Regions from separate parts of the Homo sapiens genome. Here regions 1, 2, 4 and 5 are each linked to region 3. Evidence: fine-mapped QTL for protein levels in blood plasma. A gene starts in region 3. Each other region holds a variant in brackets. All regions are shown on one strand. Distances are from middle to middle.

Evidence for each region. PIP is the chance, under the fine-mapping model, that this variant and not a neighbour inherited with it causes the effect. The UK Biobank Pharma Proteomics Project read protein levels with antibody pairs (Olink). The fine-mapping took linkage between variants from a reference panel, not from the people measured, so its PIPs are less certain.
Region 1: its variant is fine-mapped to the plasma level of the SHISA5 protein (UK Biobank, PIP 0.94).
Region 2: its variant is fine-mapped to the plasma level of the SHISA5 protein (UK Biobank, PIP above 0.99).
Region 4: its variant is fine-mapped to the plasma level of the SHISA5 protein (UK Biobank, PIP 0.92).
Region 5: its variant is fine-mapped to the plasma level of the SHISA5 protein (UK Biobank, PIP 0.99).

What each region holds. Positions count from the first base shown.
Region 1 is chr3:47,264,411-47,269,510 of GRCh38, forward strand. KIF9 (kinesin family member 9) reads right to left here. Exons shown (of 21, transcript NM_182902.4): 6 at 2,770-2,853; 7 at 2,566-2,658; 8 at 1,320-1,467. Among named protein-coding and RNA genes, the nearest start is that of KIF9, 16 kb to the right of the region's middle. The variant G/A (reference allele first, on the strand shown) is at 2,099.
Region 2 is chr3:49,273,070-49,278,169 of GRCh38, forward strand. It overlaps C3orf62 (chromosome 3 open reading frame 62), which reads right to left and starts at 4,163. Exons shown (of 3, transcript NM_198562.3): 1 at 3,358-4,163; 2 at 980-1,071. The coding sequence starts at 3,803. It overlaps USP4 (ubiquitin specific peptidase 4), which reads right to left. Exons shown (of 22, transcript NM_003363.4): 22 at 4,075-5,100. It overlaps MIR4271 (microRNA 4271), which reads left to right and starts at 1,051; the gene lies at 1,051-1,117. RefSeq lists an enhancer at 3,777-3,846 and a silencer at 3,987-4,186. The variant G/GTTTTTTT (reference allele first, on the strand shown) is at 2,450.
Region 3 is chr3:48,503,502-48,508,601 of GRCh38, forward strand. SHISA5 (shisa family member 5) reads right to left here and starts at 673. Exons shown (of 6, transcript NM_016479.6): 1 at 518-673. The coding sequence starts at 593. RefSeq lists silencers at 328-377, 388-867 and an enhancer at 1,205-1,758.
Region 4 is chr3:50,353,256-50,358,350 of GRCh38, forward strand. It overlaps CYB561D2 (cytochrome b561 family member D2), which reads left to right. Exons shown (of 4, transcript NM_001291284.2): 4 at 1-814. The coding sequence ends at 489. It overlaps TMEM115 (transmembrane protein 115), which reads right to left. Exons shown (of 2, transcript NM_007024.5): 1 at 4,958-5,095; 2 at 1,495-2,292. The coding sequence ends at 2,088. LOC127898564 (CYB561D2-LOC101928965) reads left to right here. Exons shown (of 5, transcript NR_183066.1): 3 at 4,863-5,095. Among named protein-coding and RNA genes, the nearest start is that of TMEM115, 3.7 kb to the right of the region's middle. The variant A/G (reference allele first, on the strand shown) is at 2,770.
Region 5 is chr3:47,492,415-47,497,508 of GRCh38, forward strand. It overlaps ELP6 (elongator acetyltransferase complex subunit 6), which reads right to left. Exons shown (of 7, transcript NM_001031703.3): 7 at 3,226-3,783. The coding sequence ends at 3,655. Among named protein-coding and RNA genes, the nearest start is that of ELP6, 19 kb to the right of the region's middle. The variant G/A (reference allele first, on the strand shown) is at 3,075.

The sequences.
Region 1 (5,100 bases), 1.2 Mb before region 3:
TGATGGGGTCTGTTATATACTGAATGCTTTTTATTTGTTTTTTTGAAACAGGGTCTCACTATGTCACCCAGGCTGTAGTGCAGTGACACAATCACAGCTCACTGCAGCCTCAGTCTCCTGGGCTCAAGTGATCCTCTTGCCTCAGCCTCCCAAGTAGCTCGCACCACAGGTGCACACTACCACACCTGGCTAATTTTTTTTGTTTTTAGTAGAGATGAGGTCTTGCTATGTTGCCCAGGCTGGTCTTGAACTCCTGGCCTCAAGCGATCCTCCTGTCTCAGCCTCCCAAAATGCTGGGATTACAGGTGTGAGCCACCACACCTGGTCAAGACTGAATGTTTTTGTCCTTATAAAATTCATATGTTGAAGTTGTAACCCCGACGTGATGGCATCTGGATGGAGGACTTGGGGAGGGGGAGGTAATTTGGTTTAGTTGAAGTCAGAGGGTGGGGCCCCCATGATGGGGTTAGTGTCCTTATAAGGAAAGAGACCAGAACCCTCTCTTTCTTTCCATGTGAGGATACGCGAGAAGGTAGCCATCTGCAAGCCAGGAGGAGGGCCCTCGCTAGGCATTGAATCTGCTGGCACTTGAATCTTGAACCTTCCAGTCTCCAGAACTATGTGAAATAAATGTCTATTGTTTAAGCCACTTAGTTTATGGTATTTTCTTATAGCAGCCTGAACTGAGACAGGGTCAGAGAGGACACACACATCTGTGAGGCTGGGAGGTAAGGGGAAGAGAGAAAGAGAGGCCACCACATGTACCTAAAAGAGGATCCAGGAGAAAACAGCAGAGGAGAGATGATACAGGGCAGGGAGGGGCAGGGACAGGAGAGGGAGGTATGAGTTGGAGCTTTGCTCAGGGTGGCACTCAGTTAACAATCAGACACTAGTGACTGTGTTGTCAGGCTCAACACAAAGGCCTAGGGCTATGGGGATGATAAGACAAAGCCCCCGCTGCTCTGTACAGGAGGCTGCAGGGGAAGGGAAGACACCATGGGAGAGAGGCCCTCGCCCCAAGTCTTCAGGCTGTGAAGGATTCTGCCAGCTGTCTCCTCAGGACAAGAGGAAAAGAGAAGGTATTCCTAGCACAGGTAAAAAGCCTAAGGAAGGTTCTGAGGAGTGAATAGCATAGTGTGTTCTGGGCACAGTGCTTGATTCTGCCTTTCCAGGTGTCTGAAGTCACTGTGAATGTGCTGCAGGTGAATCCATGCCACCAGGAGGGAGCAATTCTATCATCACCAGTGGCAGATGTGCCAAACCTGTCCCTCCCCAAAGACACAGACCCTCCTCCCTGGGCAGCAACTGTACCCCCTCACCTAACGAGTCCTTCAGAGCGTGGGTGAGCTTGCACTGCCGAAAGGGGATGTGGTCCCGCTTCTGGTCCCCAAGGGCAATGATGGCCTGCTCCAGGAATGAGAGCGATTTGTTGATGTAGGTGGCTTCCTTCAGGACTTGGCCCTCAGACTACAAAGCAAAGGTCAGTTCCACTTTGGATGGAATAAAGCAGCTGCCCCACTAAGAATAGCAGTCTTCCTGGTCTGGAGAAATGCTATAAGTCTGTGGTCAGGTCAGCGCCTCCTTCCCAGAACCAGGGTCTTCTTTCAATGTCATGCGATTGTATTCCATCTTGGGCTAATAATGGTAATACCAAAACTCAGAAATATTCATGTGAACACTCATGTGAATACTCATGCGAATGTGAATGCTTACATGAATATTCATATGGACATTCACTCAAAGATTCACACTAATATGAATATGTACTGAAATACTTGTCTAGATATTTGAGCAAAGAATCCTGTGAATATTCACACAAACACTCATGAATGCACATACAAATGCTCATCTGAATACTCTTGTTAATACTTCTGCTAATACACTCATACAAATATTTATTTGAAATACTCATGCAAATACTCATACGAATACTCATATTCATTCACAAAGAAGCCAGGTGTGGTGGCTCACACTTGTAATCCCAGCACTTTGGGAGGCCAAAGCAGGAGGATCGCTTGAGCCCAGGAGTTCAAGTTCAGCCTTGGCAACATAGCGAGACCCCGTCTCTACAAAAAAATTTAAAAATTAGCTGGTCATG[G/A]TGGTGCATACCTGTGGTCCCAGATACTTGAGACACTGAAGTGGGATGATCACTTGAGCCTGGGAGGTCAAGGCTGCAGTGAGCTGTATTTGTGCTACTGTACCCCAGCCTGGGAGACACGGCGAGACTGTGTCTCAAAACAACAACAACAAAAACACACACAGAGAAATGCTATACCAGCAAGGAATATTTACTGAGCACTGAGTGCCAGGCACTTTGCTAAGAATGTAGAGGGCACTATCTCATTTAATGTTTACAAAAATCCTCTGAGGTAGGAACCGCCCCCAGGTAATAGCCGTTCCCTTTTTGCAAATCCTGTCCCTCCAGCAAGCCCACATGTCCCACTTCGCCTAGCTCAGGACTGTGTTCACAAATATCCAATGAGTCATGGCCCAGATGTGCAGGCACTGTGCCAGAAAAAGGGCTTGTGGTTTATTGAGTAGCAACCTCCAGCCCCCATCACTTACCCCAGACTTCCCCAGCCTCTCTGAGCCTGCCAGATCCACCAAGTTAATTTTGGAAGTGATGTACTTTTCCTCTGATAAGGTCCGGGAATGGGCCTACAAAACATCCAAGCAGAAGTTAGACTGTCACAGGGAGAAGTTTCTGACTGAGCAGGCCCCGTGGGAATTGACTGCCCCGCCTGGGCTGATCAAAGAGCTTGCACCTACCTCTAAGTAGATGGTGAAAATGCAGTGTGATCTGGAAGAGTTTTTGTTCATAGTGTGGGAGGCTATAATCCTGTTGGTCTCACCCTGAAGAGGAAGGGAATCATAGGCAACATTTCGAAAAACTAAAACGACAAGGCACTTGGGTCATTTTTCAATTATACCAATAGCTACACAAGTGGTCTCATATCACTGCGATCAGCTGGGCCTTCCAGGCAAACCTCTTTTATAAACTAATAGAAAGGGAGTCAAATTGGAGTCCACATCTACACTTTCACCCGCCGCTGGGGAAGTGTGAATTGGTATAGCTTTCTGGAAAGCAAAGTGACAATAAAAATCAAGAGCCTTAAAAATGTTTATGAATATTGAATCAGAATCAACCTGCATGTCCAACAATTTGGGAATGATCTATGTATACAGTGGGATATTGGGCAGCCAGGAAAATGCTGACACATAGTTTTTAATAACAGAGAGAAATGTAGAATCCAAAATCATATTATAGCTGATCTAAGAAATGCAAAAGCATTCATAGAAGAAATAAGCAGAATTCTGCTAATAAGATGTTAATAATAGTTGCTTCTGGGTTGGGGTTTATAGGTTATTTTATCTTTTTTATACAGTTTTGTGGGTTTTTTTTAGTGAGCATGTATTACTATAAAAATAATAATTTATATTTTTATTTATTTTGTGTTCTCCTTTTTTTTTTTTTTTTTGGGAGAGCATCTCAGTCTGTCACCCATACTAGAGTGTGGTGGCACGATCTCGGCTCACTATAACCTCTGCCTCCCGGGCCCAAGCCATCCTCCCACCTCGGCTTCCTGAGTAGCTGGGACTACCAGCGTGCACTACCACACCTGGCTAATTTTTGTATTTTTTGTAGAGACAGGGTTTCACCATGTGCCCAGGCTGGTCTGGAACTTATGAGTTCAAGAGATCTGCCCGCCTCGGCCTGCTACAGTGCTGGGATTACAGGCATGAGCCACTGTGCCTGACCTAGTAATTTGTATTTTTAAAGGGACAGTAGGCCCTTACCTCTAATTTACAGGAGGAGGCCTTATGACCAGAATATACTTAAAAAGGAATTTTTTGTAGAGACAGGGTGGTGGTGTGGTGGAAATGGCTGTTCTTGGAGAAAAAGGTCCTTGAGGGATAGACTGATGTCTCCTTAAATGCTGATGAGAAGTGCTATGAACAAGCCCCAAAGTGAGGGTGGGGGACAGCCCCCCCTGGGGAGAGGAGAGCACCCGCTGAAGAGGGAAGGCCTGAGGCTGTGGAGCAAGCCTAGCAGACTCCTGTGGCCATACCTCTATAGCTTATAGTAGTGAGGCTATAGTCTATGGTCAGGCCTGTTCTACAAATCCAGTGACACTCACCAAGAATATAAGGGGTCACTTCATTTTTCTTCTTCTTTTTTTTTTTTTTTTTGAGATCATTCTCACTCTGTTGCCCAGGCTGAAGTGCAGTGGCGTGATGTTGGCTCACTGCAACTTCTGCCTCCCGGGCTCAAGTGATCCTCCTACCTCAGCCTCCCAGGTAGCTAAAATCACAGGTACAGGCCACCATGCCAGGCTAATTTTTTATATTTTTTTGTAGAGACAGGGTTTCGCCATGTTGCTCAGACTGGTCTTAAACTCCTGAGCTCAAGCAATCCTCCTGCCTTAGCCTCCCAAAGTGCTGGGATTACAGGCATGAGCCACCACAGCAGGTCATTCACCTTTACTCTTCAGTCCCCCTTCTGAAGTACCCTCTTGCCTTGTCTTTCTTTTTTTGTATTTTTAATAGAGAGGGGGTTTCACCATGTTGGCCAGGCTGGTCTCGAACTCCTGACTTCCAGTGATCCGCCTGCCCCGGCCTCCCAAAGCTCTGGGATTACAGGTGTGAGACACCGCGCCTGGCCTTGCCTTGTCTTTCTGGCCCTTTAAAAAAGATCCTGCTATTGACGTTGAGGAAGTAAGTTGCTATGTTGTGAGAAGGCACTATGATCATGCCTGTGAATAGCCATTGCACATGTGCCCATTGCCTGGGCAACACAGCGAGAACTTGCATAAAAAAATAAAGAGTTCCTAGCCTATATGACTTCTAAAAGAATAACATACACTTGACTGATTTCTTTTCTTGTTTTTGAGACAGAGTGTTGCTCTATTACCCAGGTTGGAGTGCAGTGGCATGATCTCAGCTTACTGAAACCTCTACCTGCTGGGCTCAAGTGATTCTCCCACCTCAGCTTCCCAAGCAGCTGGGACCACAGGCATGCGCCCCCATGCCTGGCTAATTTTTGTATTTTTGGTAGAGGTGGGGTTTCACTGTGTTGCCCAGGCTGGTCTTGAACTCATG
Region 2 (5,100 bases), 770 kb after region 3:
TGTTAACATTCAGTTCCCTAATCAATGCAGAGTCTGAGCAAAACATCTACCAAATAAAAAGATAAGAGTGTTTTGGCCGGGAGTGGTGGCTCTTGCCTGATCCCAGCACTGGGAGGCCACAGTAAGTGGATTACTTGAGACTAGGAGTTCGAGACCAGCCTGGACAACACAGCAAAACCCTAATACAAATATTAGCCAATCATGGTGGCGTGCACCTGTAGTACTAGTGTAGTACTATGGCTACTTGGGAGGCTGAGCTGGGAGGATCACCTGAGCCCAGGGAGGTTGAGGCTGCAGTGAACTGTGATCGTGCCACTGCACTCCAGCCTGGGTAATATGATGAGACTCTGTCTCTCCCCCCAAAAAGTGGTGGTGGTGTTTTTTCTTTTGAGATGAGGTCTCGCACAGTTGCCCAGGCTGCAGTACAGTGGTATGATCATAGCTTGAACTCCTGGGCTCAAGTGATCCTTCCACCTCAGCCTCCCTAGTAGCTGGGATTATGGGCACACACCACTGTGCCCAGCTAATTAAAAAAAATTTTAAGAGACAGATCTCGCTATGTATGGTACCCAAGCTAGAAGAGAGTGTTTTTTGTTTTTTTTTGAGATGGGAGTCTCACTCTGTCCCCCAGGCTGGAGTGCAGTGGCAAGATCTCAGCTCACTGCAACCTCTGCCTCCCGGGTTCAAGCAATTCTCCTGCCTCGGCCTCCCGAGTAGCTGGGATTACCGGCGTGCACCACCACGCCTGGCTAATTTTTGTATTTTTAGTAGAGACGGGGTTTCACCATATTGGTTAGACTGGTCTTGAACTCCTGACCTCATGATTCGATCTCCTCGGCCTTCCAAAGTGCTGGGATTACAGGCATGAACCACCGTGCCTGGCCGAGAGCATTTCTTATATCTGAGATATTTGCTGACTCAGACCCATGTGAAGGACCTATCTTCCCAAGGACAGGATGGACTTGCCCACTGTACTCACCAATCATATCAAGCAGATCCTTTGTGACCTCTTGGCTAGAATTGTTGAGTGGCATGTTTGAGTCAGCCTTCAAATCTCTCTCCATATCTTTCCTGCAGCCCCCAGGTGGGGGGGAAGAAAAGGTGGGGAATTAGATTCTCTTTCAAGAAAATATTGAAGGGAAACTCAGTTTTAGATAATCTCAAAGACAAAAACTTACTGGTGACCTTGTCATTTATGCTTTGATTAAAGGACAATTGGAAACTGCTACATCAGTGGAGAAATTGACTAACAGCTTTACCATAATGACTCACGAGCATCGCAGACTGTATTAAATTTTTTTCTTTTTTAGAGACAGGGTTTAGCCATGTTGCCCAGGCTGGTCTCGAACTCCTGGGCTCAGGCGATCCACTCGCCTCAGCCTCCCAAAGTGCTGGGAATACGGGCATGAGCCACCTCACCCAGCCTGCATTTGTTTACTTATTTATTTATTTTTATTTTTTATTTATTTTTTTGAGATGAAGTCTCGCTTTGTCCCCCAGGCTGGAGTGCAATGGCGCAATCACGGCTCACTGCAACCTCTGCCTCCCAGGTTCAAGTGATTCTCCTGCCTCAGCCTCCTGAGTAGCTGGGATTACAGGCGCCTGCCACCACGCCCAGCTAATTTTTGTATTTTTAGTAGAGATGGGGGTTTCACCATGTTGGCCAGGCTGGTCTCGAACTCCTGACCTCAGGTGATCTGCCCGCCTCAGTCTTCCAAAGTGCTGGGATTACAGGAGTGAACCACCGCGCCTGGCCTGTTTGTTTTAAAGACAGAGTCTTGCTCTTGTCGCCCAGGCTGGTGTGCAAGGGCGCAATTTCGGCTCATCGCAACCTCCTTCTCCTGGGTTCAAGCGATTCTCCTGTCTCAGCCTCTGGAGCAGCTGGGATTACAGGCGGCCGCAACGGCACCCAGCTAATTTTTCTATTTTTAGTAGAGACGGGGTTTCACCATGTTGGCCAGGCTGGTCTCAAACTCCTGACCTCAGGTGATTCATCCGCCTCAGCCTCTCAAAGTGCTGGGATTCAGGCGTGAGCCACTGTGCCCAGCATTTTTTTTTTTTTAAGATGGAGTCTTGCTCTGTTGCCCAGGCTGGAGTGCCATGGCAAGATCTCAGCTCACTGCAACCTCTGCCTCCAGGATTCAAGCAATTCTCCTGCCTCGGCCTCCCAAGTAGCTGGGATCATAGGCGCGCGCCACCACGCTCGGCTTATGTTTGTATTTTTAGTGGAGACGGGGTTTCACCAGACCTCAAGCGATCCACCCACCTCAGCCTCCCAAAGTGCTGAGATTACAGGCGTGCCACCACACCCGGCAAGGCCTGCACTGCTTATGAGTACCAATATAAATATTTGTGGAGTTGAAAGGAAAAAAATTCTTGTGGAGTTGAACCAATTAAATGGCCTCTTTATCCCCTTCCTATGAAGCAGCCAAGATGGCAGAACTTTGAA[G/GTTTTTTT]TTTTTTTTTTTTTTTTTTTTTTTTTTTTTGATACGGAGTCTCGCTCTGTCGCCCAGGCTGGAGTGCAGTGGCGTGATCTCGGCTCACTGCAAGCTCCGCCTCCCGGGTTCATGCCATTCTCCTGCCTCAGCCTCCCGAGTAGCTGGGACTACAGGCGCCCGCCACCACGCCCGGCTAATTTTTTGTATTTTTAGTAGAGACAGAGTTTCACCGTGTTAGCCAGGATGGTCTCGATCTCCTGACCTCGTGATCTGCCCGCCTCGGCCTCCCAAAGTGCTGGGATTACAAGTGTGAGCCACCGCGCCCGGCCTGAAGTTTCATCTCATACATTCATCCCTTCTCCAAGTCAAGGTGCCTGGGACCAGGCAATTTCAAGTTACTCGGGAGAAGAAAAAGTCTAGAAGAGACCTGGTGATGGTCCAAAAAGATCTGGGGTAAGAGCGGGGAGCAGAGGCAAAGATGAAGCCAGGAAGTAGGGCCCAGCCTTCAATTAAGCCTCTCCCTAATGTGGGCAAAGGAGGGTATCAAAGGCCCCAGTGTCCAGATTCAAACACAGGAGTTAAGATGGAATTAAGACTTTTGTTTCTGCAACTTAAAAAATAAGGTTATTTTTAAAACCCGGTTATTTTACATCCACTACCCCTTTGGGTACTGCAAAGTGGTTTCCATGACTGGTTTTTGACATCAACGATTGACAACTAGCCCCTCAACTGGAACATATACACAAAATATAACTGTTTCCTAGGCCAGATTCTGAAGAATGTCTGTCAACTCCCCAAATGCAGTCACAGAGCTGCCAAGAGGAGGCAAGAGCACTGTCATGAACTAAATCTAGGATCTTCAACAACTTTTTCAGAAACAAGAATCCCCTTAATTGTAGCTGTTAAACCATCAAAATTAGAATCACCTTAAATTTTCTTTTCTCCAGTTTTCCCCCTCTCCTGCAGTTCTCCAAGACTCTCTTTCAGGTGCCAAAATGGAGGAATGCATCAATACATTTTCCTTGCTGGTTAGAGGTTTTCTCTCGGGGCACAGAGCATGTGGTTTTGCATTTACCGGGGCATGGTTTGTTGCAAAGGCAGGGTTCTCATTCTCAGGAGCACATGGGACAGCAGCAAAAGGAGCAGCAGAAGAGCAGGCTGCCAGAGGATGTCTTCTGCAGAGGAGCCTGTGCACGGGCAGCGAGAAGGAGAGCGGCGCGGCGCTCAGTTCCAGCCTCTGCTGGCCTGTGCACTCCTGGGAATAACTAACTCCTTCAAAGGCCCGGTCAATGGCTGCAGTCAGTTCCTTTCTGCATCTTCTTAGTTTTTCAGACATTTCTCCTAAAAGCGACCATGTCTTTATGTAATGCATTGGAAATGCACAGGACAACACAATAATGTTACAAATGAGGCTGCAAACTACCCCTGAATGGCCACGATTTCCTGGAGCTTGGCCCTGGCTATAGCAGGACCCACAACCCTCGGGCTTTCCTCCTGGAGTAGGCGGTTCTCGGCTCTCGCGGAGGAACCCGCCATCTGCCAGAAGCCCCAAAGACGCCCCGCCCCACTTCCCACAGCTTCCTGGCCCGCCCCGCCGCTGCCTCCCGCCCCACCGCGGCTCCCAGGCCGCTGGCCCTACCGGCACCCCCCCTTTGGCGAGTCGGCAGCCACGTCCTTGTCCTCACCCGCAGCGCAGTGACGCCGACCCATCCAACGGTCATCGCATGCGCGTGCCCCGCGCAGGCCCCAAACCCCCACGGATTAGGTTGAAGGTCAGACAAAAAATCCCGGACCCATACGTCCGGTTCCTTAAGGCCTTGCCCACACGCAGCGGCTGGCCCCGCGGTGGGAGTGGGGACGGGGCTTTCGAATGGGGGCCCCGGGAAGAGTCTTGGCAGGGATGAGGAAAGAACCCGTTCTAGAAAGCATCTGGGTAACACCAAAATGTATTACTACCCTAAATCGCCATGAACTGGAGCCCTTTCCCGGCTAACTCCCACAAAGATTTCTGTTCTCAAGCCAACATGGAAACAACTAGACGGGACACAGCACCGGGCAGTTTTATGTACTGACTTCCTTTAAGCGTTATCTAATAAAAAGTGTGTTATCTAATAAAAGTTCCACACAGTATTTAACCGTCTTAATTCATCTAGGGTAGCAGGGGATATAACAGAACTGCTGGGTTCCACAGGAGGTTGAGGGGCCAGGATCCCCAACACTAGATATCTTCCTTAGCGGGGAGAAAGCTGGAAATTACAAGATGACTCAACGGAGAAATGGGCTTCAGTGGGTAACTTTCAGAAAATTATAAACCCATATCAGTGCACATAGCGAGGGAAAGGGGAGTTTACTTGAGGTTTGGGTTACTGTGAGCAGACTACTTGGGGTGACTAGTATTGGCATCAGAACCAGAAATCCAGGCGCTCAGGGCAGCCCTGCAGGTGGGGTGGGTCTCCAGGCTGCTCCATACTCAGCGCCTGTGTTCCTCTCCATTCTTCGGGATCCATCAGACATACTCCATTGAGTACCCCCATCCCACCCCCTTTTCAGCTTCACAGGTTTCACAGAAATTTCTCACCACCTGTTTAAAAATAAAAATAATTCAGCCTCTTGACATAGCTTCTTCTAGGTAAACGGTCTTCTTTTTTTTTTTTTGTTTCCTTCTGCTC
Region 3 (5,100 bases):
CAGACTCTGTGAATCACCTATCTGCAACCAACACACACAGTGGTGTCTCCACCCCAGAGGCCAGCCTCAGCGCCGGGCTCTACAGGAACACAAGGGCCAACGGAGGCAGCGGTGGGGGCTCCCAGACATTAAACAGAGGCAAAGAGGGAAGGCCTCTGATGGAGGGGCCAGCTCGCCCTGCAGCCACCCGCCAGACTAAAGCCAGGCAGGGAACCCTACCCTAGCCTCTGGGGACTCCATCCCCTGGAACATGGGCGGGAGGGCAGACCCCTCCCCACCGTTCCAGGACAGACAAAGGTGGCAGCTGCCTGGTGTCTAGGCAGGGTTGTTCAGGCAAGGAGGGTGCTGGGGTGGAGGAGGGGTCCGCAGTCGTGGGGGTTCGCTGACGGCCTCGGGGCAATCAGGGGTCAGTGGGGGGCATAGTGGGGCTGGTGCTGCCCGGCTCGTTGGAGAGGCAGCGCGGGGAAGTGTCTGCCCGGTCCCAGGGCAGGACGGGCCGCCCCCACCCCCGGCTCACCACCCGGAGGCGGCGTTAGCAGCAGCAGCAACAGCAACGGCAACAGGATCCGCGGCGCGGGGACCGGCGCAGTCATGGCTGGGCGGGCGGACGGGCGGACGGACGCGAGCGCCGGGCGCAGTGCCGCCACAGCCTCAGTGATCCGCGCGGCCGCCCCTCTCCCTCGCCCCGCCCCGCCCCGGCCCGGCTGGTTCCCGGAACCTCTGTCCGGGGGAGCAGGAGGAGGAGGAGGGAGGAGGAGGGAGGAGGGAGGAGGGAGGAAGGTGGAAGGAGGAGGAAGGAAGGAAGCGGACGACTTCCCAGCCTCGGGGCCAGCTTCGCGCCCGGGGTCTGCGCGAAAACTTGGTACCGGTTCCCAGACTCGGACAGGCGCCGGGCGACGCACGGAGTTTCCTTCTGCTCACCGGATGCATGGGGGGCGGCGGCGGCCCCCAGCTCTCAGGCCTGGAGGGCGTCCCCGGGAATATGCACCCTGACACTGAGCGCCTACTGTGTGGGCTGGGGGACAGCCACAGCCATCCCTCCCAGCCGCAGTCCCGGCGGATCCTCACTTGCCCGAGGGCTACGTGAGGACTAGGTGAGGCGGTGCGAGGACAGTGCCCAGCGCAGACCTTGGCACTCAGTAGACACTCCACAAATGCCGGTTCCCTTCTACAGGCCCAGTCGCCAGCTCAGAGGACACTCGATCTCCTGCCCCCTGGGACTGACACCATCATCCCAAGGTGATCCCCAGCCCCAGCCCTGGCAGGCTCAGCGCTGGCGCAGTGGGCCAGGACTGAGCTAGAAACTGGCAGCTCCCAGGGCACACAGCCAGGCCAACTTCCCACACAGGGCTCCGCCCCCTCACTTCGGGGCAGGGGTCCAGGCAGAATCAGGGATGTTGAGTCATTCTTCCTTTTATGCCCAGAGTTCCTGACCCACCCCCACTCTGCACCTAGCACAATCAGAACATTTCACTCAAGACAGAAAACGTGAAATGTCACACTAGTGGGGCACCCAGGCTGGGTTGTGCACCCTGTGTGCCACCATATATTTCTCACCTAAAGGTGGGGGCATCGCTGTGGACAAAGAGAAACCCAAGGGGACAATCTGGGATGTTCCCAGTAGTTTCCCAGGCTAGGGTGTTAGAACAGGGAGAGGAAGGCCTGGGTCTCCAATAAGCCCCCATCACCTCCTGGCCAAGAAGGGCTTAAGACTCACCGTGCTCAATACACATGTGGGGGGCAGGGATATGACAGTTCCCAGGCAGGATGCCCTCTGGGAGGGTCTTAGTGAGGGACTGGAGTCACATCCTCCCTGACAGCCCAGCCTGGTTATCCCACCTCTGCCTCCTGAGCGCCACTCTCCAAAGCTGGGTGCAGCCTAGGTCCCCCTTCTGCAGAATGGCCAGTGTATGCTCCTCATGTCCAGCTCTAGAGCCATCCTGTGTTCCACACCCTGGGTGCCCAGCCCTCTGCCTCCCTAAAGGTTGCTCATTCCACTCTGCACCATCCACAAGCTTGGTTTCTTGTTCCTTGGTTTTCCAGTCCCTGCCCCCCAGCCAAGCTCCTAAGAGTTGTTCTAAGCCTGGGCAACATAAGGAGACCCCATATCTACAGAAAATTTTAAAATTAGCTGGGTATGGTAGCAAGCACCTGTGGTCTCAGCTACTTGGGAGGCTGAGGTGGGAGGATCATTTGAGCCCAGGAGATGAAGGTTGCAGTTATGATTGTGCCACTGCACTCCAGTCTGGGCAACAGAGCAAGACCCTGTCTCAAAAATAGAAAAACAAGGCCTGGTGCAGTGGCTCACACCTGTAATCCCAGCACTTTGGGAGGCAGAGGCAGGCAGATCACCTGAGGTTGGGAGTTTGAGACCAGCCTGACCAACATCTCCATGTTGGATAGACATGGACCAACATCTCCATGTTCAGTAGAGCCCCGTCTCTACTAAAAATACAAAATTAGCCAGGTGTGGTGGTGCATGCCTGTAATACCAGCCACTCAGGAGGCTGAGGCAGGAGAATCGCTTGAACTCGGGAGGCAGAGGTTGTGGTGAGCCAAGATCGCGCCATTGCACTCCAACCTGGGTGACAGAGCAAGACTCCATCTCGAAAAAAAAAAATGAAAAAAAAAAGAATTGTCCTTTCCCACCTCCTATGCTTGCCTTTGGCTTCTCTACTCTGCTGCCCCCAACCCCAGATCCTTTAGGGGCCTCTCACCTGGCCTCTTCCTCCCTACTTTTTTGGTCTTTGGCTCTCCCATACCCTCTTATCTGCCCACAGCTCATGGTTGAGCTTGGTGGGTGTTTTGGGCTCCACCCAGGGCTGTGCATGGGCAGGAGTGAGTGGAGGCTAGGATCACCCCAGTGGCTTGGAAATCGCAACCATGCATCTCACAGGCATGTGCCCATGTGTGCAGGCATTTTCTGTGGGTCTAAGGGAGGAGACCACCCCTCATATTGTCTTATGCCCCATTTCTGCCTCCAAAGAAAGAAAAAGTAAAAACTAAAAGGCAGAAATGAAATCCACAAGCAGACAGCCCGGCGCCACACCCTGGGTCTGGTAGTTAAAGATCGACCCCTGACCTAATCAGTTATGTTATCTATAGATTACAGACATTGTATAGAAAAGCACTGTGAAAATCCCTATCCTGTTTTGTTCTGACCTAATTACTGGTGCATGCAGCCCCCAGTCACGTACCCCCTGCTTGCTCAATCGATCACGACCCTCTCACGAGCACCCTCTTAAAAGGGACAGGAATTGCTCACTCGGGGGACTCTGCTCTTGAGACAGGAGTCTTGCCGATGCCCCCGGCCAAATAAACCCCTTCCTTCTTTAACTCGGTGTCTGAGGAGTTTTGTCTCTGCAGCTCAGGCTTGCAAAGCCTGGAAATACAAGTTGCCTGGGGAAAGTGACCCCTCCAAGGCAGAAACCAAACTTGGCCCAGATGCTGTACCAAGGCTAGGACTTGGCCCAGATGCTGTACCAAAGCTAGGTGGCTCCCCAAACCTTCCTACAGCTCTGTAAACAGCAATTTTTTTTTTTTTTTTTGAGACAAGGTCTCACTGTCACCCAGGCTGGAGTGCAGTCACGGCTCACTGCGGCCCCAATTTCCCCAGGAAACTGGGGTGATCCTCCCACCTCAACCTTTGGAGTAACTGGGACCACAGATGCACACCACCACGCCCAGCTAATTTTTGTATTTTTTGTAGAAGTAGGGTTTTTGCCATGTTTCCCAGGCTGGTCTCGAACTCCTGGGCTCAAGCAATCTGCCCGCCTCAGCCTCCCAAAGTGCAACAGCACTTTTATCAAACTCTCCTCAAATACCCAGTTTGTTAAGAATGACTGTGTTCTGCTGGGACCTTGGTTACAGTTTGTAGGTGAGAACTCTGCATCAGGCTGGTGGAGCAAAGCAACACCCACTGATGCTTGTAAAGCCCAGGGTGAGAGTAACCAGGTGAGAATGAGGCCATCAGCCCAGCCCCAGGACTGACTGCAGGACCAGATCGGTGAGTTCTACAGTGGAACGCTTGCTCAAGGATCCTTGCCATTCTTCTTCATTCAGCACCTGGTCCCCTTTCCTCCACATCAGAGGAGGAACACGCTAGATATTATCTTTTTCAGATTCCTTTGCCCCAGGGCAAGAGCTTTTGCCCAGCCCCAACCAATCAGATGTAGCCTCCCTGGAGTCAGTCAGGGGTACTGGCCACCAGCTTTGATGGAGGGCTGCAGCAGTCCTGGCAGAAACATGAGTCTGCACCTGTGGGGAGGGCTGTGTGAGTCACAAAGGCCCCTGCTTCCCCCTCGTGGCAGGAGCAGTGGCATGCTCACCAGGCCAAAGTAGCACTGTGGTTTGGGCTGGAGACGATACTGCTTCGACTTGGAACCTTTCTTTCCAGCCGCCTTGTTGGCTCTGAGGGCTCCACAGTTGCTTTTCATAAATTGGGTTTCTGATTAAGTTGGGCAGAGTCAGTTTCCTCCAACTGACAGAGAAGTTCTCACCAGGGCCGGGCACCGTGGTGACTCATGCCTGTAATACCAGCACTTTGGGAGGCAGAGGTAGGCAGATACCTCTTGAGCGCGGAGTTTGAGACTAGCCTGGGCAACATGACAAAACCCCGTCTCTACAAAAAATACAAAAATTAGCTGGGCATGGTGATGCGTGCCTGTATTCCCAGCTACAAGGGAGGATTGCTTGAGCCCAGGAGGCAGAGGTTACAGTGAGCTAAGATTGCACTACTGCACTCCAGACTGGGCAACAGAGCAAGACTCTGTCTCAAAAAAAAAAAACCTAAAAAAAAAAAGAAAACATCTGGACAAGGTGGCTCAAGCCTGTAATCCCAGCACTTTGGGAGGCCGAGGCGGGTGGATAACCTGAGGTCAGGAGTTCAAGACTAGCCTGGCCAACATGGCGAAACTCCATCTCTACTAAACATACAAAAAAAATTAGCCAGGCGTGGTGGCGTGCACCTATAATCCCAGCTGCTCAGGAGGCTGAGGTGGGAGAATCACTTGAACCAAGGAGGCGGAGGTTGCAGTGAGCCGAGATCGCACCACTGCACTCCAGCCTGGGTAACAGAGCGAGACTGCTTCAAAAAAAAAA
Region 4 (5,095 bases), 1.8 Mb after region 3:
ACCGAGGCACTACTGGTGTTTTCTCCTGAGAGTTCGCTGCTGCACTCCCTCTCACGGAAAGGCCGAGCACGCTGCCACTGGGTGCTGCAGCTGCTGGCCCTGCTGTGTGCACTGCTGGGCCTCGGCCTTGTCATCCTCCACAAAGAGCAGCTTGGCAAAGCCCACCTGGTTACGCGGCATGGGCAGGCAGGGCTGCTGGCTGTGCTGTGGGCAGGGCTGCAGTGCTCAGGTGGGGTGGGGCTGCTCTACCCCAAGCTGCTGCCCCGATGGCCCCTGGCGAAGCTCAAGCTATACCATGCTACTTCTGGGCTGGTGGGCTACCTGCTGGGTAGTGCCAGCCTCTTGCTGGGCATGTGCTCACTCTGGTTCACTGCCTCTGTCACTGGTGCAGCCTGGTACCTGGCTGTATTATGCCCTGTCCTCACCAGCTTGGTCATTATGAACCAGGTGAGCAATGCCTACCTATACCGCAAGAGGATCCAACCATGAGCTCTTCCCAGCCTAGGGGAAGCCTGGATTTGCCCCTCCATGTAGGAGCTGGGCCTAGGGACCTGTTGAACTCTCTCAGCTGAGTCAGGGGACACCTCAGGCACTGGGACAGTTGGGCATTTGGAGGCCCGTGTGTGAATTCCTGCTCCTCATGCTGGAGTGCCTCCCATTTCCTTCCCCTTTCTCTGTCATCCCAGAGGAACATAGGCATCATGTGTCTGGATGAAGCTGGGGCTGCAAGACTGCCTCTCCTGCAAGGCAGCTCATACTTGTACTGTATGTTCAGAAATTTTAGGAGAGAAAAAAGTAAAAAATTTGTAAAAAATGACTGAAAAGATTGATGGGAGAAGCAGCCCAGAGTTGGGGATGGTTCTTGTTAATGCCATCAGCACAGGAAAATGGGCAGCTGGGCAAGATGGGGACCCCCCACCCCCGACCCCTGGCTGCTCCCTGAGGGGCTGAAGCTCTCCTAGCACACAAATCCCCAGGGTCTAGCTGCTGAGCCTCCCAGGCCACTCCGGGCCCTGGCAGGCCCTAGAGCTGTAGCTGTGAATGGTACAGCTGTGTGTCCTTTCTGTCCCCCCAACTGTCTACTGTGCTGGAGTCTCCAGACTGTGGGGGTTAGATACATACAATAACTGGGAGCTGGGGGTGAGTTGTCTCCAGGGGTGGCAAGAACTGAGCATTCTGTCTTAGAGATAAACCATGGGTAAGAACAGCGCCTTATGATGGAGAGGCCCTTATCATCAGATCTAGGCAGGGACAGAAGGCCTCCCAGATTGGGGTTTGGAGGGAAAGAAAAAAGGAGTAAGAGTCTGAGGCAATAGCTCTTGGAAGGCTGCTTGGCAGTGCGCATGTGGTGGTGGTGGTGGCGGTGGTGGGGAGCTGGGGCAATGGGCTTCTTATCCAGCTGGAGTTACCATGGAGACAATCAAGTCCCTGTCTAACATTGCAGTTGAACGTGATGAGGGGGCTGCACAAGGTGGCCTGACAAGAGCCCAGGAGTCATTCCTCAGAGAACTGCTTTATTGATACTGCGAGCCTGGGCTTGGCTGCCCACTCAAGTGGTCCTGTAGAAAATACCTGGGAGCTGGAGCTGTTCTGGTCCAGAAGCAGTCACCGCCACAGCAGAGGGAAACAAATCCTGACAGGAACAGTCTTTCTGGGGATGGGCAGGGATGTGCAGCCCCAGGTCGGCTCCTGCATTTGCTGGGCCCCCAGAACATTTTTGGCAAATCCTTGCCTTGGCTCAGGGCTCTCGGCAACCAGTTTCAGATGTGAGGGCCGGCCCAGGAGCTGTGGCATCAGTGTCCCTGCAGCCACTTGCTTGGGGCTGCCAGCTGATGTACATTCTTACCTCAGATGAGGGCCTGGACTGGCCGATGCCTCAGAGGCTCCGGGCCTGGCATAGTGGTTGTCTGGAGTTGGAACCAGGTAGCAAGAGTCCTGGGTAGTGTTGGCGAGAAACAGCAGAAGGCCATGGAAAGCCCCAGCAGGCCTTCTTCCCTCTCCTCAGAGCAGTCAGGTGCCCTGGAGTAGCTGAGAGGATGTCAAGGGGGGCTTGGGAGGGGAGGTGCCACACTCAAGGTGGTCTGGAGTTACAGCGTCGGGGGAGCTGCCTCGAAGGTGATTAGACTGGATTCTGGGGCAGCCCCCTTCCCTGGGGGTGTGGGAGCTTTGTCTGAGGGCAGGGGGCTGTCCACCTTGGCCCCAGACTCCTCTTCATCATCATCCATGCTGGGCCAGATGGACTGGTCTTCCACTCTCTTCAGCCGCTCATTGAGTGCCTTCAGGGCCAGTTGCCTGGGGCCAGAGGAGAGAGGAAAGGTCACTCTGGGTTTGGCCTTGGCTCATGCCCTCTACCCTTCCGCAGCAGGCTGACTCCTCACCGTACCACCTAGACTCCTCCCCCAGAATCCTATGTTTCCCCTTCACCATGCAGAGCCTGGGACTCCCCAGAGATTGGTTTAGGACCCACTCTGCCATCAGAATGATAACCCAAAGGCTCTAAGAATCTTCCCTCCATAGCTGAGGCACCTCCGGGATGGGAAGGTCAGCTGGGTGTCTGCCAGACTGCCCACGAGGCCAGCCACCAGGAATGGTTCTGAGGGTGGTATCTAAGGGTCAGTGGAACTAGTGCCCTAGGGCAGATGGGTGGAACGGCAAGTTCTGGAGTTTCCAGGAGTTTCTGCCTGGGTGCTGGCATCACATCCAAGGGAAGGGTTATTAATTCTCCCCCTCTCCTGGTTAGGGGTATCTTGAGCCTCCTGGCAAGGGTCA[A/G]TGGGGAAGGCTGGAATTCAACACCTCCCTTGGCTCTCAGCCCAGGAAGCAGGGCCAACTTGGGTGAGTCTACCCCTCCTAACTGATGCTAATATTCTCCCTCTCAGAAGAACCCCCAAAGCCACCAAGGCCCTTGTTAGAGCAGGGACTTAGCGGAGCCCTTGCAAGAGGAGAAGAAGGAGAAACAGCTCACATGGGTAGGCACAGGCCAGAGCCTACTGCTTCCACAGGGTGGACCCTTAGAGGCCCCACTTTGAGGGCAGGTGGGAAAGTCCAACAGAAGAAGGTTTACACATGTGCTTGGGACCCTGACCCACCAGAAGGTGGAGTGCTGCAGCTGCCAGGGAACCGTTTCAACAGTGACCACTGTGGACTCCTATACCTCAGCCTCTCTGTGCCACCAATGTGGGGACAGCCTGTGTAGCCTTTCAGGTTCCAGCTGAGAACCAAAATCTCCACCATGTCAGGGAACACGACAAGAGAGGCAACAAGGGCACAGGTGTAGAAAGCCCTAGCACGCTTCCCCCCTGCCCGTCAGTCTCACACATGACAAGTTGGTATAGACAGGACAGTCTTTCCCTGCTGCTACCCAGGCTGCCATCCTGATGATGCCCTTGCCAGTTCCATCTAAAGCCTGCCAAGGCAGAGAGCTAGTGTTACGCTAGTCACTTCCTCACAAGGACCAGAGAGACAGATAGGAAACCCTGCCTCCCTCTCCTGGTAGCCCTTTGGAGTTGGGCGTGGCCATGCAGTCAGATGTCAAACTGGCTGGAGGAATAACCGCCACCCCCATGTAAGCTAACAACCATAAGGCTATGCCAAGAACCCGCCTCTTGACCCTCCCTTCCTCCCCACCAACCTGCTTCCCCCCTGTCCATTTTCTTGGGCCTAGGCAGAGGTTTTTGAATGTCCAGCCAACCCTAACATTCCAACACCTCTCAGTGGAGGAGGGGTCCCCACTGGCCTGGCCCCACCTGAATGGCTCTGAGGGACAGCTCAATTCCTACCAGGCCCAGCTCACCTGGCCCCATCTTTAATACCAGCTAAGGTTAAGAGAGACTTCTGTCCTTAGGGCTTATCACCTATAAAGACCCAAGCTCTAGGGCCCAGAATTATGCCCTGCAGCATGCTGTATATACTTTTCAACACCTACCATACCTTGGGCCATAGTGATCTGTGGCCCTTCCCCAGCTGGAACTCCTTCAAGAAAGGAGTGTGTCCCACACTCAATTCCATAGCCCAGTGGAGAGTAAATACAGGGATAACTGCAGCTAAATTCATAGAGCTTCCTGCCACAACCCCATTCACAGGTGAGCAAAAGCAGGAGCCTTGGCAATGCAAAAGACAAAGCCCGTCCCAGATTTTACTACTCGAGTAATTGCCTCAAAACAGTGAGGAATAATGTTGGAAATGGAGCTGTGGATCTTATGAAGGCTGGGACCACTCTGCTGGCTCCACAGATCTGGGAGAGAGAGTAAGCTGAATTTAAAAAGATCCCTCCTGCCCTGGCCAAAGTGCATTCAGTGAATAATTCAGCTGGGACTCCTGATGCTGTGGATAGCTTGGTTTACAGATAATGAAAGGGTCATCGCCACTCCCTGGTGTCAGCAGGCTCCCTCAGTGGGTCATGTAGCCTGTCCCTGGTTTTGGTGACACATGCTTGCTGGAGACAGAGGTAAATGTGGTAATACCCCAAGCTTCCCTCTCAATAAGTAAGTGGCAGAGAAGCACAGCATCTGAGTTAAAGCCCAGGAAGAGGACACAGCATTTGGAAATTGGAGTGGCCCAGATCACCTTTTGAGGACCCCAGGCCTCCTTCCCTGTCCCTTCCTCACAGGGGAAAGTACCAGCAGGTTGCTTCTGGCTCCCACAGGCCCAATGTCTAGGATTCTGAGATTCTGAGGCAAGGCCAGGGTTCTGTGTCCCTCCACTGGGACTTCACAGCACCAAAGGAAACTGCATTTCTTGAGACTTATTAAGTGGCCCGAGTGGTGAGAAAAGTGCCTCGTGGACCCCAGACACCTAACTGCTGAGTTCCTTAAGGCCAAAGACTGATTTTGTCTTTCCGGATGTGCCCCAATACCTGACTGTAGGTCTCCACCTATGTACAGCGAACACCTCAACAGATGGCATGTGACTCGACCAGTATGCTCCTAGCTTGACAAGATTTTGGAAAATTTCACAGTACCTTCTCCGCTCGGCGTCTTGAGGGTCTGTGCCTGGCAGGCTGATGGTGATGGAGGATGGGGCACCCACATCGTAGCGCTTCACCGTCTTCTGGCATATCTTTACCTTCACCAGGAGGCTGTGCACCAAGTTCGCCAGC
Region 5 (5,094 bases), 1.0 Mb before region 3:
AAAACTTAGCTGGGCGTGGTGGCAGGCACCTGTAGTCCCAGCTACTCGGGAGGCTGAAGTAGAAGAATCGCTTGAACCCGGGAGGTGGAGGTTGCAGTGAGCCAAGATTGCGCCACTGCACTCCAGCCTGGGCAACAGGGCAAGACTCTGTCTCAAAATAAATAAATAAATAAAAATAAAATCCTGGACTCAAGTGATCTGCCTGCCTCAGCCTCCCAAAGTGCTGGGATTACAGGCATGAGCCACCATGCCCGACCAACACCAGGTTTTAATTGATAAGTAAGCAAGGATAAGGAACAGATTCTGTACACACGGAAAAATACAGAGAAAATTATATGCTAGTGATTAAAGAAATGTCCATTTCACACTAGAATCATTTTTATGGACCATATCACACCTTATGATCCTGTTTTTCTACCCCTGTATTAGTCCATTCTCACACAACCACCACTATTAAATTAATTAAAAATAAGTTAAACCCAAAGTTGACAGAGCAAAATCTCTGCATCATTGTCAACTGGCTCCATCATTCTGAAGAACAACCTGATAATGTGCCAGGGCCAGTTTCTGCTGTAATTCAATAATTCCATTAGAGGGTATGGACTAAAATGTCATCACCCCTCACTTCTCACAGGCCCCTGTGCTGGTTTATTTATAGCACTTATTGTGGTCTAAGTTAAATATGTCCTTTGTCGATTCTGTTGATTGCCTGTCTTCTCTTCCAGAACGTAAGTTCTATGAGCTCTGCCAGTGACCTGGTTTGTCAGGTTCTAAACAAACAAGTACTTATCCCCACCCGCAATAGGTAGAGTATATAAAATTTATAACAGCATAATTGATAACTGTAAAAACCAGAATCTACATGCCCAGAGGATAACTAAACAAACTAGAATATAATGATAGCATAAAATGCTGAATAGCTTTTTTTTTTGAGACTGAGTTTTGCTCTTGTTGCCCAGGCTAGAGCACAATGGTGCATTCTCGGCTCACTGCAACCTCCGCCTCCTGGGTTCAAGTGATTCTCCTGCCTCAGCCTCCCAAGTAGCTGGGATTACAGGTGCCCACCACCACGCCCAGCTAATTTTTGTATTTTTAGTAGAGATAGGGTTTCACCATATTGGCCAGGCTGCTCTTGAACTCCTGACCTCAGGTGATCCACCCGCCTTGGCTTCCCAAAGTACTGGGATTACAGGCGTGAGCCACTGTGCCCCGCCCTCAATAGCTATTAAACATAAAATATTTAAGGGGAGGCTGAGACGGGAGGATCTCTTGAGCCCAGGAGTTCAAGACTACCCTGGGCAGCAAAGTGACACCCCGTTTCTACAAAAAAATTAAAAACAGCCAGGCATGGTGGTGGGCACCTGTAGTACCAGCTACTCAGAATGCTGAGGTAGGGGAGGATCACTTGGAATTCACGTGAACTAAGAAGTGCCACACTGCACTCCAGCCTAGGCAACAGAGAGAACCTGTCTCAAAAAAAATAGTGAAAACATCTATAAACTAAGTGAAGAAACATGATAGCAACATTTATGTCATGTAAAAAATGGTGCCTTGCCCATTCAAAATCGTAGCTCAAACGAAGTTTGCATAAATAATGAAGTCTTAGTCAAAGAATCATTAGATTCTTTAATAACTACTTTCTCTTAATTGCACTCATAACTTTCAAATATTCTATCAGGTCTACAGTATTTTGAGAATAAAAGCAGCTTACTGTTTCAGACGGATAACATACACAATGGTATGATTTGAAGAGAAGTGTGATAAATTTTTCCTAAAGACTAAAAATCCAAAAAGTTAAAATTAAACAACAGATATGAGCTGGGCGTGGTGACACGCACCTGTAATCCCAGCTACTTGGGAGACTGAAGTGGGAAGAGCCCTTGAGCCCAGAGAGTCGAGGCTGCAGTGAGCTATAACCACACCACTGCAGTCCAGCCTGAGCAACAGAGAGAGACCATGTCTCAAAACAAAGAAAAGAGGCTGGGCATGGTGACTCATGCCTGTAATCCCAGCACTTTGGGAGGCCAAGGCAGGCAGATCACCTGAGGTCAGGAGTTCAAGACGAGCCTAGCCAATATGGCAAAACCCCATCTCTACTAAAAATACAAAAATTAGCTGGGCACAGTGGCACGTGCCTGTAATCCCAGCTACTTGGGAGGGTGAGGCAGGAGAATAGCTTGAACCCGGGAGGCGGAGGTTGTGGTGAGCCAAGATCATGCCACCACTGCACTCCAGCCTGGGTGACAAAGCAAGACTCCATCTCAAAAAAAAAAAAAAAAAAAAAAAAAAAAAGGCCAGGCATGGTGGCTCACATGCCTGTAATCCTAGCACTTTGGGAGGCCAAGGCAGGCGGATCATGAGGTCAGGAGATCAAGACCATCCTGGCTAGCACGGTGAAACCCCGTCTCTACTAAAAATACAAAAAATTAGCCGGGCATGGTGGCAGGTGCCTGTAGTCCCAGCTACTTAGGAGGCTGAGGCAGGAGAATGGCATGAACCCGGGAGGCGGAGCTTGCAGTGAGCCGAGATCGGGCCACTGCACTCCAGCCTGGGTGACAGAGCAAGACTGTCTCAAAAAAAGAAAAGAAAAGAAAAGAAAATAACAGCTATGTAAGTTCCTTAGTATACAGCAAAATAGTATTATTTTTTCATTTTCTTTAAGATAAAATTCATTGTAATATAATTTATATACCAAAAAAGCAGCCATTTTAAGAGAATACACCTGGTGTCTACTCTGAGGTGACCTCAACTGAGGGGCTGAGTGGGACTAGTTGTCATCTACAGGATGCGGGGCAAGAGCCCACCTCCTGCAGTCTTCACAGGTGAGGGAGGCACCAGCAACTCGCCAAGGCCTGATCCGCCTGGCAGCAAGAACATCCCTTACCCCTCTCACCAAGACCATACACACCTGCGCCTACACAGGGCCTCATGTGGCCAAGGCCCTGGTGCCAGGCCCTTGATGGCTAGGATTTGTTGGCATAAAGGCAAGGCACCACAGAAACTGGAGAAGCCAAAGGTCCCCACCTTTGGGTGGGGAGCTGGCCTCTGGGTTCCATGACTGTCAGTCAGCAAGT[G/A]TGGACTGTGGAGTGAGGCACAGTTACTTACAGCCTGCTGTGCAGCCTGTGTGCTTCCAAACCTCTCTAGGTCTGTTTCCTCGCTGAACTCATAGGGAAAGGGAAAGTACCTTTCCAGGATGGAAATTGAACAAGACAACCCACAGGAAGCTCCAGTGTGGAAACTTACTTTATTCCAGCCATGATTATCCTAGTTGTCACCTTGCACACCTGCCATCCGGTGCCATCTCCTGGCTGGCACATCTATACCCACTCTGGCTCTGAAAGGCTTGTCAACCAAAAATGGGCAGCTGGGGCTAAGGCATATTTAAACAAAGGCTCCAAAGGACCCCTTTCACTTGGGTCTAGCATCCAGCCTCTCTCTCAGCAAAGGCAGGATTGTGGTCCCTTGTGTTTTCTGAACAGGGCCCAGGGCAGCCAAGGCATGCCATCACTGCAGCACTCAACCCTCTGGTCACAGTGGAGTCGCCGGTCCAGCCTGAAATATTACTACAGAGGAGAAAGACCCATTCTTGCTATGTTGCTCTATCTTCCACGTCCAAAAACAGTCCTATGTAGCTTCAGCTGCTCCGAAATCAGGTCACAGAACAGCAGGAGACATTCCTTTGGCAAAAAAGGACACGCTTTTGTCCTGTATCTTATACTGGTAAGTGAAGCTCTGATCCCGGTGGACTGCGGGCTGCGATGGTCTCCTCCACAGGATCCTCAGCTACAGAGACAGAGAAGAATGAAAGAGGAGCAGCCACCCCAGGACCTGCTCCACTGGGAACCCCACCCTACCTTCTCTGTGCCCTTCAGCTGAGGCCTCTATGAGATGATAGTCAGATGTGCCATCTGGTAATGGGGCCAACTTGTAAAATAAAGCCTATCACCAGCTAACTACAAATAAAGGGTTCCCCTCCATTACAGTAGTCATATTGGCTCAATACAGAAAATGTGAAAGAGGAAAAAAAAAGGAAACAGAAGGAAAAAGTCTTTCAGAGGAAGACCCTTAAAGTATTTTTATGTTTTTTTTTTTTTTTTTTGAAGCAGAGTCTCACTCTGTTGCCCAGGCTGGAGTGCAGTGGCGCAATCTTGGCTTACTGCAACCTCTGCCTCCTAGGTTCAGGCAATTCTCCTGCTTCAGCCTCCCAAGTAGCTGGATTATGGGTGCGCATCACCATGCCTGGGCAATTTTTGTATTTTTAGTAGAGGCGGGGTTTCACTATGTTGGCCAGGCTGGTCTGGAACTCTGACCTCAGGTGATCCGCCCACCTCGGCCTCCCAAAGTGCTGGGATTACAGGCGTGAGCCACTGTGCCCGGTCCCTTTGTTCTTTCTTCTAAGCATGGTTTTGTACTTGCGGGCTAGACTAATTTTGAAAATCACATTAGAATTTGTACATTCACTACAGAGGCCCAGGAAGGCTAGATACCTGTTTTGATGGTGTTACTGCTGACTACAATGCTCTGGGGGTCTGGCTGAAGAGAGGCCACAGCTGCCCAGCAGCACCTTCTCCTCAGGCCCTGCTGCAGCACTACACACATAGTACTGCTGGGCTTGGTCCTCTGTGTGACCTACCAGACTTGCCTCTGAAGGACTCTGGGCCAAGACTCCTAGCCACTCTTATTGGGTCAGGAGTGCTCAACTTGAAGTTAACCAGGAAGCTGTGGTGGAGGCTTGGGAGTGGTTCCAGAAGAGAAGTTTGAGAAGGCACAGAGCCACATGGCAGCCCATTTAGAGGGGTAGAATCCAGCTTCCCTCCCAGGGCAGGACTCTCAGTTTCTGCCCAAGTACTCCAATTGTTCTGGTGAGTGGCAGCAGTTGGGGCAGCAACCCTGGTCCACGGGTACGGCCTCCCCAAGTCGTTTTTCTTTTTTCTTTTTTTGAGACAGAGTCTCACTCTGTCGCCCAGGCTGGAGTGCAGTGGCGCGATCTTGGCTCACTGCAACCTCCGCCTCCTGGGTTCAAGCGATTCTCCTGCCTCAGCCTCCCGAGTAGCTGGGACTACAGGCCCACACCACCATGCCTGGCTAATTTTT